Regions from separate parts of the Homo sapiens genome. Here region 2 is linked to region 1. Evidence: fine-mapped expression QTL. Tissue or cell type: whole blood. Region 1 holds a variant in brackets; the other region holds the start of a gene. All regions are shown on one strand. Distances are from middle to middle.

Evidence for each region. PIP is the estimated chance that this variant, and not a neighbour inherited with it, causes the effect.
Region 2: HSPA4 starts here. The variant in region 1 is fine-mapped to the expression of HSPA4 in whole blood (INTERVAL, PIP above 0.99).

The regions. Positions count from the first base shown.
Region 1 is chr5:133,105,858-133,113,960 of GRCh38, forward strand. It overlaps HSPA4 (heat shock protein family A (Hsp70) member 4), which reads left to right. Exons shown (of 19, transcript NM_002154.4): 19 at 1-592. LOC105379178 (a long non-coding RNA gene) reads right to left here. Exons shown (of 3, transcript XR_948792.2): 3 at 5,211-5,658. Among named protein-coding and RNA genes, the nearest start is that of HSPA4, 58 kb to the left of the region's middle. RefSeq lists an enhancer at 2,660-2,709. The variant C/T (reference allele first, on the strand shown) is at 4,971.
Region 2 is chr5:133,048,832-133,056,934 of GRCh38, forward strand. It overlaps HSPA4 (heat shock protein family A (Hsp70) member 4), which reads left to right and starts at 3,182. Exons shown (of 19, transcript NM_002154.4): 1 at 3,182-3,526. The coding sequence starts at 3,420. RefSeq lists enhancers at 2,469-3,431, 2,618-2,667, 2,738-2,787, 2,978-3,157, 4,396-5,358.

The DNA of each region.
Region 1 (8,103 bases):
TGCTTAGGAGGAGGAAGGGGAAAGTATACTTATGTTGGTGTGTAAGCATGCATGGAGGCCTCGAGGCACCACAACAAGGCCAGGTTCTTAGCACATCCTCTGTTCTCTACCTGTCATGCTTCAAGAGTTCCAGCTGGCCTGCTGTGAAGCCAGTAGCTATTTTAAAAGTGCTGGCTGCAGGATTAAGCCAACCCTTTACAACTGGCCCAGACCGTAATGGCCATTTCTTCTTAAAAAAAAAAAAATTTTTTTTTTTTTTTTTTTTTTTTTTTTTTTTTTTTTTGGTGTGTGTGTGTGTGTGTGTGGGGAAGGGTGTGGGTGCTGGGATGGGGGTGAATTTCAAGTTGAAACACGATGATGTGGTCTGCTTGCTCTCTGCTTAGACAGGCTTTAAGACCAATTGGATTTTCATGGAGGCCAGGACAGAGAGTGGTAATTGATGGCTTGTGTACAGACAAGCATTTATCCAGGTTGCGTTATCCAAACTGATTTGTTAAAGCTCCAGGTCACGTTCTTACACTAAGAAAATCATTCAGTAAACATGAGACAAGTTTAGGAAAAACTAATAAAATAAACCTGTCTTAAACTTGAATGGTTTCCTTAATTCCATAATGAAGGCTGCTGGGTGTGTGTGTGGGGGTGTGTGTGTATGTGTGTGTGTCTGTGTGTATGTGTGTGTGGGGTGGGGGCGGGGGGTGTGTTTTCAATAAAAATGTTCTCTAGGAGTAGGAACCCTCTGAGCTAAATTTCACTTAACATCCGTTGAAGACTTCCAGTCTGAAGAGTGACAGCTGAAGCACACTGCCTACTTTGTGAGAAAATGTTGCCTAATTTTTCTGTACTCAAACTCTCCAGTTGAGTCTTGGCCCAGTTCCTTTGGTGTTAGGAATCCTTGTCTTGCTCCTGTGACTGGGCCTTACTTTGAGGGTTTTGTTAGCAGAAGGCGGGGGTTATGGCATAAAGGTAAGTGCTAGGACTTACACCTGGCCAAAGAACAGCGCGGTCCAGAGTGTGCTAGAATAGTTGGCGCCACTGGATGTGTGGTGTGGCTGCGTGGAATGTGTGTTGGTGTATGTATGTGGTGGTGATGGGTGTTTAAAGGGCACTAAGCCAGTGAAAAAGACCTTAACTGGATAAGGCATGGGTCTAGACGAGGAGGGGTCAGGGGTCTTGTTCCCTGGGTCATGCCCCTTGCACAGTCCTAGTCCTCTGGCTGTAGGAGCAGCTTACCTGCCAGGGCCTACCCAGGGCCTATTGTAGCCACGTGTCTGAGAAACGTGTGTCTAGTAGGTTTGGTTTCCTCCTGAGCATGTAAGTGGTTTCTGTAGGGGAATTGTTAGATGTGGTAGAAAGAGCTGAGATAGCTGGGTGTGGTGGTGTGCACCTGTGATTCCAGATACTTGGGGGGCTGAGGCAGGAGGATCACTTGAGCCCAGGTGGTCAAAGCTGCAGTGAACTGAGATTGTGCTATTGCAACTCCAGCCTGGGTGATAAAGTGATACCCTGTCTCCTTAAAAGGTGGGGGCCTGAGAGATCAGGGTTCTGTTGTGGGGCAGTGGGAGCTGCTTTGCAGGGGCACAGGGGGCCTGGGGGTTGTTGGAGGTAGTGGGACTTAGTCCACCTTTGAGGGGACAGCCAAATGAAGGGGAAAATTGCTGGTTTTGGTACCTGCAGGAAGAGGGAAGATGTAAGCATGGTTCCAGCTGAAAACCATGCTTTAGAAGTTGGGATAGTAGTTACTCTTTGTGGAGTAGTGACAACATGATGTGAGGCTTGGTGATGCTTGTTTTTTGATCTGACTTGATAGTGTACTCATGTACACTTGATCTATTTCAATAATTTTAAGTGGCTTTAACAGAAAGGTGTGTATTTTTTTTTTTTTTTTTTGAGATGGAGTCTCGCTTTGTCACCCAGGCTGCAGTGCAGTGGCGGGATCTTGGTTTACTGCAACCTCTGCCTCCCGGGTTCAAGTGATTCTTCTGCCTCAGCCTCCCGAGTAACGGACTGGAGGCGTGCGCCACCACGCACTGCTAATTTTTGTATTTTTAGTAGAGACAGGGTTTCACTGTATTGGCCAGGCTGGTCTCGAACTCCTGACCTTGTGATCTGCCCACCTTGGCCTCCCAAAGTGCCAGGATTACAGGTGTGAGCCACCATGCCTGGCCTACATTTTTACACACACAATGTAGGTTATAAAACTACATAGCCTCTCATGTTTTGAAAGAACATTAAATGGGTTTGCAATAAAAAAGCCAGAAGGATTTTCCCAGATGAAGTGGTTTTTAGGGTGGGATTGTGGGTGATTGTTTATTTTTGCTTGTTTCTGTTTTCAGAGTTTGCTACAATAAGCATTTAGGGCCAGGCATGGTGGCTCATGCCTGTAATCCCAGCCAAAGTGGGAGGATCTCTTGGGTCCAGGAGTTCAAGACCAGCCTGGGCAACATGGGGAGACAAGCCCCTACCCCCCACCGCCTCCTGTCACTAATAAAAGCATTTAGGAATTTTATAATGTTAAGAAAACTAGAAGTGTGTTTTAAGAAGAATGGCTCCAAGGTTTCAAACCTAGAATACGGGATATGATTGTACATGTGGAGCTTCTAGTCTTGAGTCATTGGAGATGTGGTGGGAGTTTAGATTGAGAAGTTTTCCTGGGTGGGGTTGAGACATCGAAGCTCCAGGTGGGTGTGGATGGAAGCTTTTGGGGCTGGAGTCGTGTTCCTCATTGACGGGATGAAGGCTTGTGTTGAGATGTGTTAGGAAGAGGAAGTAAAAGCTTTGAAAGAAGGAACTGCCAGAGAGGAGTTATGATGCATAAAGCATGTTGGGAGGAAGGGAGCTAGAGATGTGAGATGTGGCAGTGGCCAGCAGGGTTAGATGCTTCAGTAGGGTGGGAGCTGGGTGGGGTGAAGGGGCTTGAGGTGAGGCTGCAGGTGCTGAGTACTTGGTCAAGAAGCTTGGCCTCAGCCGCCCCGTCCGGGAGGGAGGTGGGGGGGTCGGCCCCCCGCCCGGCCAGCCGCCCCGTCCGGGAGGGAGGTGGGGGGGGTCAGCCCCCCCGCCCAGCCAGCTGCCCTGTCCGGGAGGTGAGGGGCGCCTCTGCCCGGCCGCCCCTACTGGGAAGTGAGGAGCCCCTCTGCCCGGCCAGCCGCCCCGTCCGGGAGGGAGGTGGGGGGGTCAGCCCCCCCGCCCAGCCAGCCGCCCTGTCCGGGAGGTGAGGGGCGCCTCTGCCCGGCCGCCCCTACTGGGAAGTGAGGAGCCCCTCTGCCCGGCCAGCCGCCCCGTCCGGGAGGGAGGTGGGGGGGTCAGCCCCCCCGCCCAGCCAGCCGCCCTGTCCGGGAGGTGAGGGGCGCCTCTGCCCGGCCGCCCCTACTGGGAAGTGAGGAGCCCCTCTGCCCGGCCACCACCCCGTCTGGGAGGTGTGCCCAACAGCTCATTGAGAACGGGCCAGGATGACAATGGCGGCTTTGTGGAATAGAAAGGCGGGAAAGGTGGGGAAAAGATTGAGAAATCGGATGGTTGCCGTGTCTGTGTAGAAAGAAGCAGACATGGGAGACTTTTCATTTTGTTCTGCACTAAGAAAAATTCCTCTGCCTTGGGATCCTGTTGATCTGTGACCTTACCCCCAACCCTGTGCTCTCTGAAACATGTGCTGTGTCCACTCAGGGTTAAATGGATTAAGGGCGGTGCAAGATGTGCTTTGTTAAACAGATGCTTGAAGGCAGCATGCTCGTTAAGAGTCATCACCAATCCCTAATCTCAAGTAATCAGGGACACAAACACTGCGGAAGGCCGCAGGGTCCTCTGCCTAGGAAAACCAGAGACCTTTGTTCACTTGTTTATCTGCTGACCTTCCCTCCACTATTGTCCCATGACCCTGCCAAATCCCCCTCTGTGAGAAACACCCAAGAATTATCAATAAAAAAATAAATTAAAAAAAAAAAAATAAAAAAAAAAAATAAAAAAAAAAAAGCAAAAAAAAAAAAAAAAAAAGAAGCTTGGCCTCTGAAATGAGGCATCAGTCTGCGAGAAAGGAGGTTGGGCAGTGTCCTGTGTGTAAATGGGGATGGTTCCCACCACTTACTTGAGACCATTGGGAATCTTGGAGTTGCCAGTACATTCCTTGGATGTACTTGGCTTTGGCTGGGGCAGCCCTGGGCCATGACCCTCTAACCTGGAATGCCACTGTTTTTGTGAACTGCTATTTTGAGCAGATATTGCAAGAAGTGTAGAAACTAAAGAGGTGACTTCTTAAGCATCAGTCTAGGAGGCAAATAGGGAAAATGGCCAAGTTGAGGTACAAGCAACACATCTGGAAAGATAAAGGAGGGTGTAAATTTCTGGAGGATCAGGGAAGGAAAGACCTCAGAGTATTTAAAAAAATACAGAATGCTTTCCAGATTTGCTCAATATCCATGGGCAAGTGCCAGGCTAATCCTGACCTTATTCCTCCAGTTTCAGCACACGTCATTAGGACAGGGTGAGTAGAGACTCTTTACTCTCCCTTCGTAAGTGGCATTCGCCAGCTTCAAACACAACACAGAAAAGACTACAGAAAGCTGTGTTTTTATCGGGCCTGTTCACTAGTGTGTCTGGGTTTACATCCTTCAAGGGCGAGATGGACTATTAGATTTGGAGTCCTGGATCAGTTGAGGGAGAGAAAGCACTGCAAGTACTTTATCACAAGTAAGCAGACCTTTACTCACCACATACTGGAGGTCTCCCATTTTTTTTTCTACATGAACTTTAAAATGTATTTTAAAATATCTATTATTTAAATTAGACTCAGCTAATGCTTGCAGAAGAGAAAGCTGGAAACAGATGGTCTTGGAAGACCAGTCAGTGGCCCAGCTTCCAGGATGTAAATCCCAGCAAAGGATTTCTAAGGATGAGCTGGGTCAGTATATATTCCACAAAAGGATGGTTCCAGTTATAGGGTACCTTTCAGGAGTGCCAGTGGGGAGCTTTGTAGGACC[C/T]GTGTAAGGCTGCCATGAGGAGCCGGTGAGCTGTCTGGGTTAGGAAAGTTGAAAGGGCCCATGCAGTGGTAAAGGAGGCCGCAGCATGAGTGAAGGTCTTTCCTCTGTGACTGGTCCTGTCCTTGTCTTCTACATCCCACAACTGAAGGAGGGACTCTGCCTGGGTTACAGCTGCCTCCGTGCAGCCCGGCAAGAAGCAGGGAATGGAGAAGGCGCTCAGTGAATACTTGAAGGCAGAAATGCAGTATTTTACTGTTTTCTATTATTTTCAATGAGGGGAAAAACGGTAAAACTCTTTTTGAAGTCATCAGACCTTCCATTTTTGGGGATGAGGAAAGAGTCTCACAGAACGGGTGGATGGCAGAGCCAAGAATTTTAATGCCAGCTGTTTTGAAGAGTGCTACTTTTCTGGAAAGTTGTATGGCTAGACTATGGGGCTTTTGCCTTCCAAGAAGTCGCCCTGAGTGTAGCATTAGTTGGAGTAACACTCCCTAAGAATCTGACGTTCCCCTCCGGCCAATTCTGATTTGGTCTTGTGTGAAATCGCAGTGCTTGTGTTGCCACATGGGGGCGCCATCGCTCTTCCTTTGCCGTGGTGGTTGGTTCCGTGCGTAGATCAGACTTCACTCCTTGAGGAGTCCCAGAAGTTTGGAGAACACAGACGGCCACCTCCTCTCCTTCTGGGTAGCTAAAAGCAAAATAAGTATGGTTTAACAGAGTCCTCAAGCTAGCAAGCAGGGGCTCAAGCAAGAAAGTAGGCCTTTTGCTACTAATCTCTTAGGTCCTTACCACCCAAAGTATGACATCACTGTTAAAAAGAAGAATCTTGGACTGCTCCCAGACCTCAGGTAGATCCCAGCCCAGTGCTTCTCAGTATACCTGGGGATCTTGCTAAAATGCAGATTCTGATTCAGCAGGTCAGAGTGGGGCTGAAGAGTCCATTTTTTTTCTTTTCTTTCTTTCTTTTTTTTTTTTGATGGAGTCTCACTCTGTCACCCAGGCTGGAGTGCAGTGGCGCGAGCTCAGCTCACTGCAACCTCTGCTGCCCGGGTTCAAGCGATTCTCCTGCCTCAGGCTACCAAGTAGCTGGGATTACAGGTGCCTGCCACCACGCCCGGCTAATTTTTGTAGTTTTAGTAGGGATGGGGTTTCACCATCTTGGCCAGGCTGGTCTTGAATTCCTGACCTCGTGATACACCTGCCTTGGCCTCCCAAAGGGCTGGGATTACAGGTGTGAGCCACCATGCCCGGCGAAGAGTCCATTTCTATCAAGTTCCCAGGAGATGCCTATCATGGACTGTGCTTTGACTGAGAAAGACAACCTATAGGAGCCTCAGTTCCTTCGCCTGTAAAACGGGGGTAACACCAGGCCTGTCCGGCATGTGAGATGATGCATGCGGAAGGCACTGAAGACAGGAAGAACAAAGGTATTGCTCACAACAGGTGTGCAACTTGCCCTTTAAAGTGCAGAGTAGCTGACCCAGACATAAGTAGTCCGAGTTACCATAGCCTCCTGGCCTTTCTTGTCCTTACCCCACCAGGAGCCCAGGCTCCAGAGGAACAAGGTAGAAAGTCAACCTAAGAACCAAAGATGTACCGCCCTCCCGTGTGACATGGTCATAGTCCCCGGATGGGGAGGGAGTGCTGCTTCCTGCCCCTGGGGTGACACGTGAATCCATCCCACCTGGATGGAGGAACGGAGGTCCCTCTTTCCTTTTGACTTGAGCCAGTCCAATGGACTCAGCCTCGTGTGATCCTATTAGTAGCTTCAGCAAGGAGCAGGAACAACACACTGACCCCTGTTCAAGGTGGAGTTCTGTAGCTGTGGGTAGAGACTCCTAGAAAGCAGCGATTTGCCTCTGAATCCTGGACATCTGCTGTAGAAAAGTGAGGAAGAGCTTCAGAATGCCTGGGCTCCGTGTGAGGCTCCTGAGGCCCAGTTTTATTTCCTTGCCTAACTTGTGGTGGAGAGGCCAAATATGCATGGCATAAAAGAGACAAGAAGGCCGGGTGTGGTGGCTCATGCTATAATCCCAGCACTTTGGGAGGCTGAGGCAGGTGGATTGCCTGAGGTCAGGGGTTTGAGACCAGCCTGGCCAACATGGTGAAACTCCGTCTCTACTAAAAATACAAAAATTACCCTGGTGTGGTGGCGGGTGCCTGTAATCCCAGCTACTTGGGAGGCTGAGGCATGAGAATTGCTTGAACCTGGGAGGCAGAGGTTGCAGTGAGCCATGATTGCACCACTGTACTCCAACCTGGGCGACAAAGCGAGACTCTGTCTCAAAAAAAAAAAAAAAGACAAGATTTCTTGGTGTATGAGGGTTCCCCCCTTCCTTCAAAGAGGATTGCCCCTTGGCATTCATCACTGTCTACAAGTTCGGTCTTGGTCATCTTATTTTGCAGATTTCTATAATGCCCAATCTGGAAAATGGGCAGAAGAGACAACACAGGAGAGGTGGAGGAGAAAGGGTGGGAGGAATCTCCTTGTGGACCAGCTCCCAGGCTCTCCTTTGAGGTAAAGCAGTGGCTCGAGTGTGCATCTGAATCCCCTGGGGGCCTGGTTACACAGATGACTGGGCCCGCCCTCCAAGTTTCAGATTCCATAGGTCTTCAGTGGGGTCCTGGAGTTTCATTTCTAACAAGCTCCCAGGTGAGCCTGCTGCTTTTGTTCTGTGGATAGAGAGTCCGGGTGACGGGTAAAGGAGAAATAACTGGGGCTGCTGATTCACATCACAAACAGCTGCGGGTGATGGAGGTTGTGGGCGGGAGGTGGAAAGAGCGAGGCTGAGTACAATGGTGAGGAGTAGGAGGAGAGGGAGAGGCACAAGCGTTTCTGAAGAAATGCCAAAGAAAGTTTGGTATCTCTCTGGAACTGTTTCTGAACACAGGACATTGTGTCTTGTGGGCTATGTGACTTGGCCCTAGCTTGGTTGTGGCCAGTGCTAGTGTGTGGAGCAGCTCTTCTCCGGGCGGCTGGCTTATCTCCATGATGCTCCTGGCTCCCTGGCCTCGCTGAGTAGTTGGCACGTCTGTGACTTCTTTATCCACGTGTGTCTTTTTCCTGGCCAGGTGGAAAGCTTCCCCAGGGTGGAGGAGATGTTTGCCAGGTTAAGGTCCCTTCTCTAATGGT
Region 2 (8,103 bases), 57 kb before region 1:
TGACGAGTAAAGGAATTATATTGGTATCAATACAGTGTCTGGCGTAATGCTAGCATATGCTGTAGGAATGCCAGAGACATGGTAATTACCATTATTATTGAGTTATTGGAGTTTTGGTGTTTAAGAAAGGGTTGTTGCTTTGACTAAAAGCATTGCTCCACTCACTGTAAGATCAGGGAAGTCAGAAAATCACCATTATCTGAGCAGGTAGTTTCCTTGTGAAGCAAAAAATTGCAGAAGCTGCTCCAGAGCGTAGGGCAGGATTCCACTGGACACTTGTCAGGGAGAAATATGAGTCCCCAGCTGATGGAGAACCTTTTGTCTTTTGTTGGGCAGCCTATGAACACTGTATATTTAAAAACAAACACTTCTGTGATTGCTTAGGACTAAATTTAATCGTTGTATTTGAGAGTGGCATTTAACAACTTCCTGCTTTTAAAATACTTAAATACCTAAGATACTCTGCCAAATGGAAAGAATTTGTTCTCCGAACACAGTGCCTCCAACATTAAATATTCTGGACACTTCGTTGGTTCGCAACTGTGATACTTGGAAACTTGCCACGTTAGATTCTTCAGGATTCTAAAATAACCTTTTCCTGACTTCATTTATTTAAATATCCCAGAATAATCTCTTAAGCTATAAGTTTGATGATCCAGGAAACTATTTATAGGAGGATGAGTACTCTCTGTGACTGATGGTAGTTATGTTTTATTTTGAGAAGGACAAATCATTAAAAAGATTGATAGGGCTGGTGGTATTTTAAACTGAAAGCAGTACCAAGGCAAACAAGGCAGTTGAGGTATGAAGTTGGAACATAATAAGATATGGGTGTAATTTTCATCAACTTAGCTAAGACCTAGGGAGGTCTTCCAATAGAAGGAAGGCAGAAACAGGCAGTAACACAGACAGTGATCTTTTAGGTCCACTGGACACTTTAGCTTAGGCAGCTCGGGTTGTTTGCTCAGTGATTAACAACTGAGATAAACAGATGGAGACAGGACTCTGTCATAATTAAGGTCAACAGTGTGCTTGGTATTATTGATATTGCCCCTAGGTAGGAGAAAAACAGAGGAAGGAAGGTCAAGGTCAACCTAACTTAAAAAAACTTTAAAAAATTGTGGTGAAATATACATAAAATTTACCATTTTCATCATTTTTAAATGTACAAATCTGTCACTGATCATGCACATTGTTATGCAACTACCACCAGCATCTATCTCCAGAACTTTCTCATCTTCCCAAACTGAAACTCTGTATCCCTTAACTCTCCATTTCACTCTACTTGTGAAACCGCTTTTCTGTCTTTATGTAGTTTATTGTAGGTGCCTGATACAAGTGGAATCATATTAAATTTTGAATATAAAATTAAAAATTAAAAAAAATTAATTTTGATTTGTTTGGCTTTCCACTTAGCGTATTTTCAAGGTTCATTCATGCTGTAGCATTTATCAGACTTTCATTCCTTTGTCTTTTCAAAGCTGTATAATGTACTGTTACGCGTATACACTAAATTTAGAAAACTCATTCATCTGTCAATGGACATGTGGATTGTTTCCTCCTTTTAGCTACCGTGAATAAACTACTATGAACATGGGTATACAATGTACAAATATGTCCCTGCTCTCGTTTTTCCAAAGGCTGTTCCTGGCTGCCTCTACTCTTTTTATTCCCAGTACCCTTTTACAGGTAGCACCTGGTACTTGTCTTTGAAGAATTAACAGGTTTTAGTTAGGCAAAATGTGAGAACAGTGTGGCCATTTGCAAGTTTTAATGGTAATCAACCCGGGTTTGGGGTTGCTCCTATAGAGTGAAGTACCTCCGGAGGTGGCAGGAAATGCAGGTATTTAAAGGGAAGGGCATACCAGGGCAATGTAATTTCTTCTTTGCTCATTCACTTTTAAAATGGCTGAAGGGCAGGTACTCTAGCCTTGAGACCTTCAACTCATGATGTACCCTCCAGCAACGGAGAATTTCTTTTTAGTCCTTAAACTATGGTCTCTATTGCTAGTTTTCCAAACTTGAACACAGCCTTTTCCTTTTCTGGGAAGTTGTCCTAGTCTCCACCATTCTGTGCATATAGCACTCGCCATTCTGTACTGGGGTCACCTTTACTTGTTTAGCCACCCTCATGATGGGGATGATCCAGGTTTTGCAGAGGTGAAACTTATATACCATTGGGGGGCCCTACAAATACACAAAACAAATAATTAAAACGACAAATCACAACACATTACTAGAGACTTGGAGATTCAGATTCTCCTTAGATCTCTCTGGGTAATTTATTAGAAATGCTTACATAGATTTGCTTCCTAATCTCAAGCTGGCTTCCCCTCTCCACAACTCAGCAACTATCTATTCTCCCAGGAGGCCATACAAGCGAGGGGCCCTGAAGCTTAACATTTATTAACTTCATGTAAAGGTCTGAGCGGACCTTTCAGGCCAGGCAGCGTGTCACTTGCCTGTGTTCCTTGTTAGGGCCTACCACCGGGTAGGTGCTTGGAATGTGCTGTGGATTAAAGGCTTAAATCCTGCGGGCCCCTCAATCTGATCTAAGGACATGAGTGGCTTAGAGAACGGCGCAACAAGGCTAAGCGAAAGAAAACAAAGCGGTGTGGCTGGGAGTGGGCTCCTTCCCTCCGCTGGTGAGGGTGCGATCTTAGACTCTTGAGAGAACCCGACATAAAGGCCGCGTTCCAATGGCGGCCTTCTCCCCTACCGGCCAACCTGCCCCGAAAAGAGCAGAAGGCACCCTGCGGGATCTGCAGATCAGCTTGCGTCTCATTCTGGGGCACCGACACGGTGGAATGCAAGACACCCCACTACCGGAAGTTTCTTTGATGTTAAGAAAAACGGCGGAAGTAGGCCGCAGCGCTTCCTCAGTATAGTGCCTCGAGCTGGCTCGCCTACTTTCTACGGTAAAGGGAGGTGCTCCACATCTCTATGCAGCTGTGCAGCGCCGCAGGTTCCATGCGCAGGCTCGGTTGGCTAAATGCGCTTTCCAGCCATCTTTCAGCCACCCAGTCCTTTCCCAGGTTCTCGAGCCAGGACGTGACGTATTCAGACGTACTGGGGGCGGGGCCTCAAGGGGAAAAGCGCCTGAGCCGGGATATCGCGAGAACATCCCGTTCTTTCGTAGCTCTGGTGCTGCGGCTCCGCTCTCGTCGCAACGAGATCTTTCGAGATCTTCTCCGCCCCCGCTACCGGCGCCTCCTCTGCGGCCACTGAGCCGGAGCCGGCCTGAGCAGCGCTCTCGGTTGCAGTACCCACTGGAAGGACTTAGGCGCTCGCGTGGACACCGCAAGCCCCTCAGTAGCCTCGGCCCAAGAGGCCTGCTTTCCACTCGCTAGCCCCGCCGGGGGTCCGTGTCCTGTCTCGGTGGCCGGACCCGGGCCCGAGCCCGAGCAGTAGCCGGCGCCATGTCGGTGGTGGGCATAGACCTGGGCTTCCAGAGCTGCTACGTCGCTGTGGCCCGCGCCGGCGGCATCGAGACTATCGCTAATGAGTATAGCGACCGCTGCACGCCGTAAGTGTGGGCCGGGCCTGCCGCGTGCACTGGGGTTAGGAGATAATGCTTGTTCCAGTCTGGGACCCTCGCTGCTTGGGGAACGCGGGCCGAGGAGTCGCCTCCGTTCCGAGCCGAGGTCCCGGTAGGTCAGGGACCCCCAGTAGGTATTAGGACACTAGGGGCCGCGGCCCACTATGAGCGTGGGTGTGTGCTAAGCGCGAGGGCCTTTTCCCCGGTGGCCCGTCGGCCGAAGAAAGGCTTCTGGCCGGTACTCGGACCAGCGGAGGGCACGGGTAGGAACTGGAAGGACTGCAGGCCTAGGATGTAAACGGATCGCGGTCCTTTTCTTGAGGGCAGAGACCAGGCCCAGGTCGTACTGAGTCTTTTGAGTCCAACAGAAAGCTCAGAACTTTGCACACAGCAGGCGCTTAATAATAGTTGAATCGAACGGGTTCTGGGGCTTGCCAGCCGCGAGACCGTGGAGCGGTCAGCGTCCCACGTGAGTGGGGGCGGGGCAGCGCCCGGAAGAGAGCGAGCTGGAGCAGCCTCAGGCACGGGTTCCGGATGGACTCGGGGTCTTGAGATTGGGTTGGCACGGATAGGAATTTAATAAAATCGGTGCTCTTATGATAACTTTGCAATCGCTTTTGTTTTCCACATTATTTCGGGATATTGTGCTATATTGGGTCACTCTCTGTTTTGTGCGCGTTAACCCCTCAATAGGGTTGCACTTTAACGATAATGCATTCTAACCAGTGTGTTGGCCACAATTGTTAGTGGCTCAAGGGCCCGCCTTGACTTCTAGAACCCATAGTAAGTTTTGGGACCAGCATAGACACAGTTCTAAAAAATGGTGGGTCACTCAGGTCTTTCACTGGTTACAGTGTCTGCCTTTTGAATACTTGTAGATACATTTTAATCCGTTGTCGTGTTCTTAGACAAAATCTTGTAAGAAGTTCTGTATTATTTGCCATTCAGGGTCTCTCTTCTTTTTTTTTTTTTTTTTTTCTTTTTTGAGACAGACAGGGTCTCACTCTGGCTGCCCAGGCTGGAGTGCAGTGGTGCGATCTTGGTTCACTGCAGCCTCGACCTCCCTGGCTCCTGGCTCAGGTGATTCTCCCACCTCAGCCTCCTGAGTAGCTGGCGTTGCAGGCGTGCGCCACCATGCTTGGCTAATTTTATTTATTTTTAGTAGAAATCGGGTTTCACTATGTCACTCAGGATGGTCTCGAACTTCTGGACTCAAGCAGTCCTCCAGCCTCGGCCTTCTGGAGTACTGGGCTTACAGGCATGAACCACCGTGCCCTGCCCAGGGGCTCACTTGTTATTGATTGATTGAGATGGAGTCTCGCTCTGTCGCCCCAGGCTGGAGTGCAGTGGCATGCTCTCGGCTCATTGCAACCTCGGCCTCTGGGGTTCATGCGATTCTCCTGCCTCAGTCTCCTGAGGAGCTGGGATTACAGGCGCGTGCTACCATGCCCGGCTAAATTTTGTATTTTTAGTAGAGACGGGGTGTTGTCGAGTTGCCCAGGCTGGTCTCGAACTCCTGACCTCAAGTGATCCTCCCGCCTCGGCCTCCCAAAGTGCTAGGATTACAGGCGTGAGTCACGGTGCCCGGCCCCAGGGGCTCAATTCTAAGGTCCATTATTTTCACCCTCAATTTTTGTCACATTTCTTCAGCAGGTTTCAGCGAAACTAGATTGTTCAGAAGTCTCACATTTCCTTTCCACTTGTCAAATTTCCGCACCCCCCACCTCCTAACCCAGGTGCTTCCCCTGAAAACTCATCCCAGAAGCCAAAACGGTAGTTTGCTGTCCCTTTGCTGAGTTTAGTCTTGTTAACAGCCCTATTAAGGTTTATTTATTTATTTATTTATTTTGAGAAAAGGAGTCTTACTCTGTTCCCTACGCTGGAGTGCAGTGGCGTAATCTCGGCTCACTGCAGCCTCCGCCTCCTGGGTTCAAGCGATTCTCCTGCGTCAGCCTCCCGAGTAGCTGGGATTACAGGTGTGCGCCACCACGCCTGGCTAATTTTTGTCTTTTTTAGTAGAGACAGGGTTTCACCATGTTGGCCAGGGTGGGCTCGAACTCTTGACCTCAAGTGATCTGCCTGCCTCGGCTTTCCAAAGTGCTGGGTTTACAGGAGTGAGCCACCGCACCTGGCACAGCTTTATTAAGGTTTAATTCATATACTATACAATTTAACCAGATGAAGTGATCGTTTTTAGTGTAGTCACAAAACAGTGCAACCATTACTGTAATCAATTTTAGAACATTTTTATCACTCCCCCAAAGCCCTGTGCCCTTTAGCAGTTTATTTTCCCTATTTGTACTTTTTAACAATGGGTAGTCTAACTTGGCATCTCCAGGGAAGTGTATTGTGCCCTGAAGTTTTTTTTTAAGCATTAAAGTTTGTTTTTAAGCATTTTAGTATTTGAGAATATCTTTGTATCCGTGTTTTCTTGGTCTATAAAATGTCTCCCCTAAGGAACTGAAAAGGCTAAAGCGCTGAGTTAATGTATTTAGTGTTTTGGTCCTTTCCTGCCCTGTGATTGAACACGCTTTAGTTCCAAAGGGCGCACAGGAAGAGAATCCCAAGTATGGGGAAGAACAGTGTTCCTATCCTTTCTTTTAGATTATTATCACATGCTCCTGTTTTTCTTTTAGAAAGACAATAGCTACAACAATTATACCATGAATTCTATTTGAAACTGAGTTGTTGCAGATAAAAAATTTGCCTCAAAGACATTGTGATATATATGACCCCATACACCACGGAATTGTGATAAGAAAATTCCATTTAAATAATTTTCCTTACATGTTTTCTTTATATTTTCCTTCATAGTTTTCATTAACTTACAGGCATGCCATACATTTCAAGTGATTTCTGAACTGTATGATTTTGATTCACTTTGATTACTCTGTTTTGGAGTCTTGGGCTAAATAGAAAATGGTAGCAGGAAGGTTGATTTTTTTTTTTTTTTTTTTTTTTTTTTTTTTGGTAGCGGTTATGGAGGAATGGATTTGGAGCTCATATGTAAAAAAGACTGCATGTTGTGGGTTTGTTTTAACATGAGAGTGGAAATGAGATGCAAGTCTTAGAGGGTTTATGATGGTGGAAGTACCTCGTTTCAGATATGGGTGTAACAATCTGGATTAGGTTTTTGAGGAGCCAGTGGAGTCTCATCCAGAAGAGACCCTTGATTTTCCACCCAATTTAGGCTTCCTTCATTTTATCAGATGTTGAGTGCCTCTGATGTGGTAGCCATTTTTCTAAGCACTGGAGGTACTGTGGTGAACAAATAAGGTCATGCCATTATGGACATGGCTGGTGGATTAAACCAAATACTAAACAAAAATATGTAGTAATTACTAACTGTGGTAAAGGGCAAGGTGGAAAAGTACAGAATACAGTGAGAGTATAGAATAAGCGGGTCTAATTTAAATTGGATGGAAGGACCTGGCACGATAGCTCATGCCTGTAATCCCAGCACTCTGGGAGGCTGAGGTAGGAGGATCGCTTGAGGTCAGGAGTTCGCAACCAGCCTGGCCAACATGCTGGAACCCTGTCTCTACTAAAAATACAAAAATTAGCTGGGTGTGGTGGCGGGCGCCTGTGGTCCCAGCTACTCTGGAGGCTGAGGCAGAAGAATCGCTTGAACCTGGTAGGTGGAGGTTGCAGTGAACCGAGATCATGCACTGCACTCCAACCTAGGTGACAGAGCGAGACTCTGTCTCAAAAATAAGTTGGGTAGAAGGTGCTTTGAAAGAAGTACCATCTGAGACCTGAGGATGAGTAGGATTTTACCTTGGAGGTCACAGTAGGTTTGAGGAAGAGTTGTTCCAGGCAGAAGGAACAGCAAGTGGGAAAGACCTGAGCAAGAAGAGCTGCATCCTTGATACATTGAAGAGCAGCCACGACTCTTTCAGCTGCTTGAGAGAATGCTGTGAGATGAATCTGAGGAATTAGGCAGAGCCTTGTAAATAATAATAATGATTTTTACCTAGGTGCAGTGGGAAGATTATTTTTTGACACGGAGTCTGGCTCTGTCACCCAGGCTGGAGTGCATTGTTGCGGTCATGTGCATACATGCGGCTAATTTTTGTATTTTTAGGTAGACGTGGTTTCGCCATGTTGGCCAGGATGGTCTCAAACTCCTGGTCTCAAGTGATCCGCCCGCCTTGACCTCCCAAAGTGCTGGGAATACAGGCGTGAGCCACCGCGCCCGGCCTGTAAAATTCTTTATTATGGCTCTAACACGTTTTCTTCAAACAGGTTATTTCTAACTTTTTGCTGTTACAAATAGTTCTTCAATAAGTAGCCTTACATATTTATGTTGTAATGTTAATGCTTTTATTTTTATTGTATAGATTTCCAGAGGTGAATTTGCTAGGGTAAGGGATATACTGTATATACTTAAAGTTTCAGTAATATTGCCAGAATTCTTTACACAAATATAACAGATTAATTTGCAGTAGGAACAGATGTGATTTCTCTACTTCATTGGAGATTATGAGAATTATAATGAGTTAAAACTATAACTTATACCTTTTTTTTTGCCATAGTGCTCAGAATAATGCCTGGGATTCAGTAAA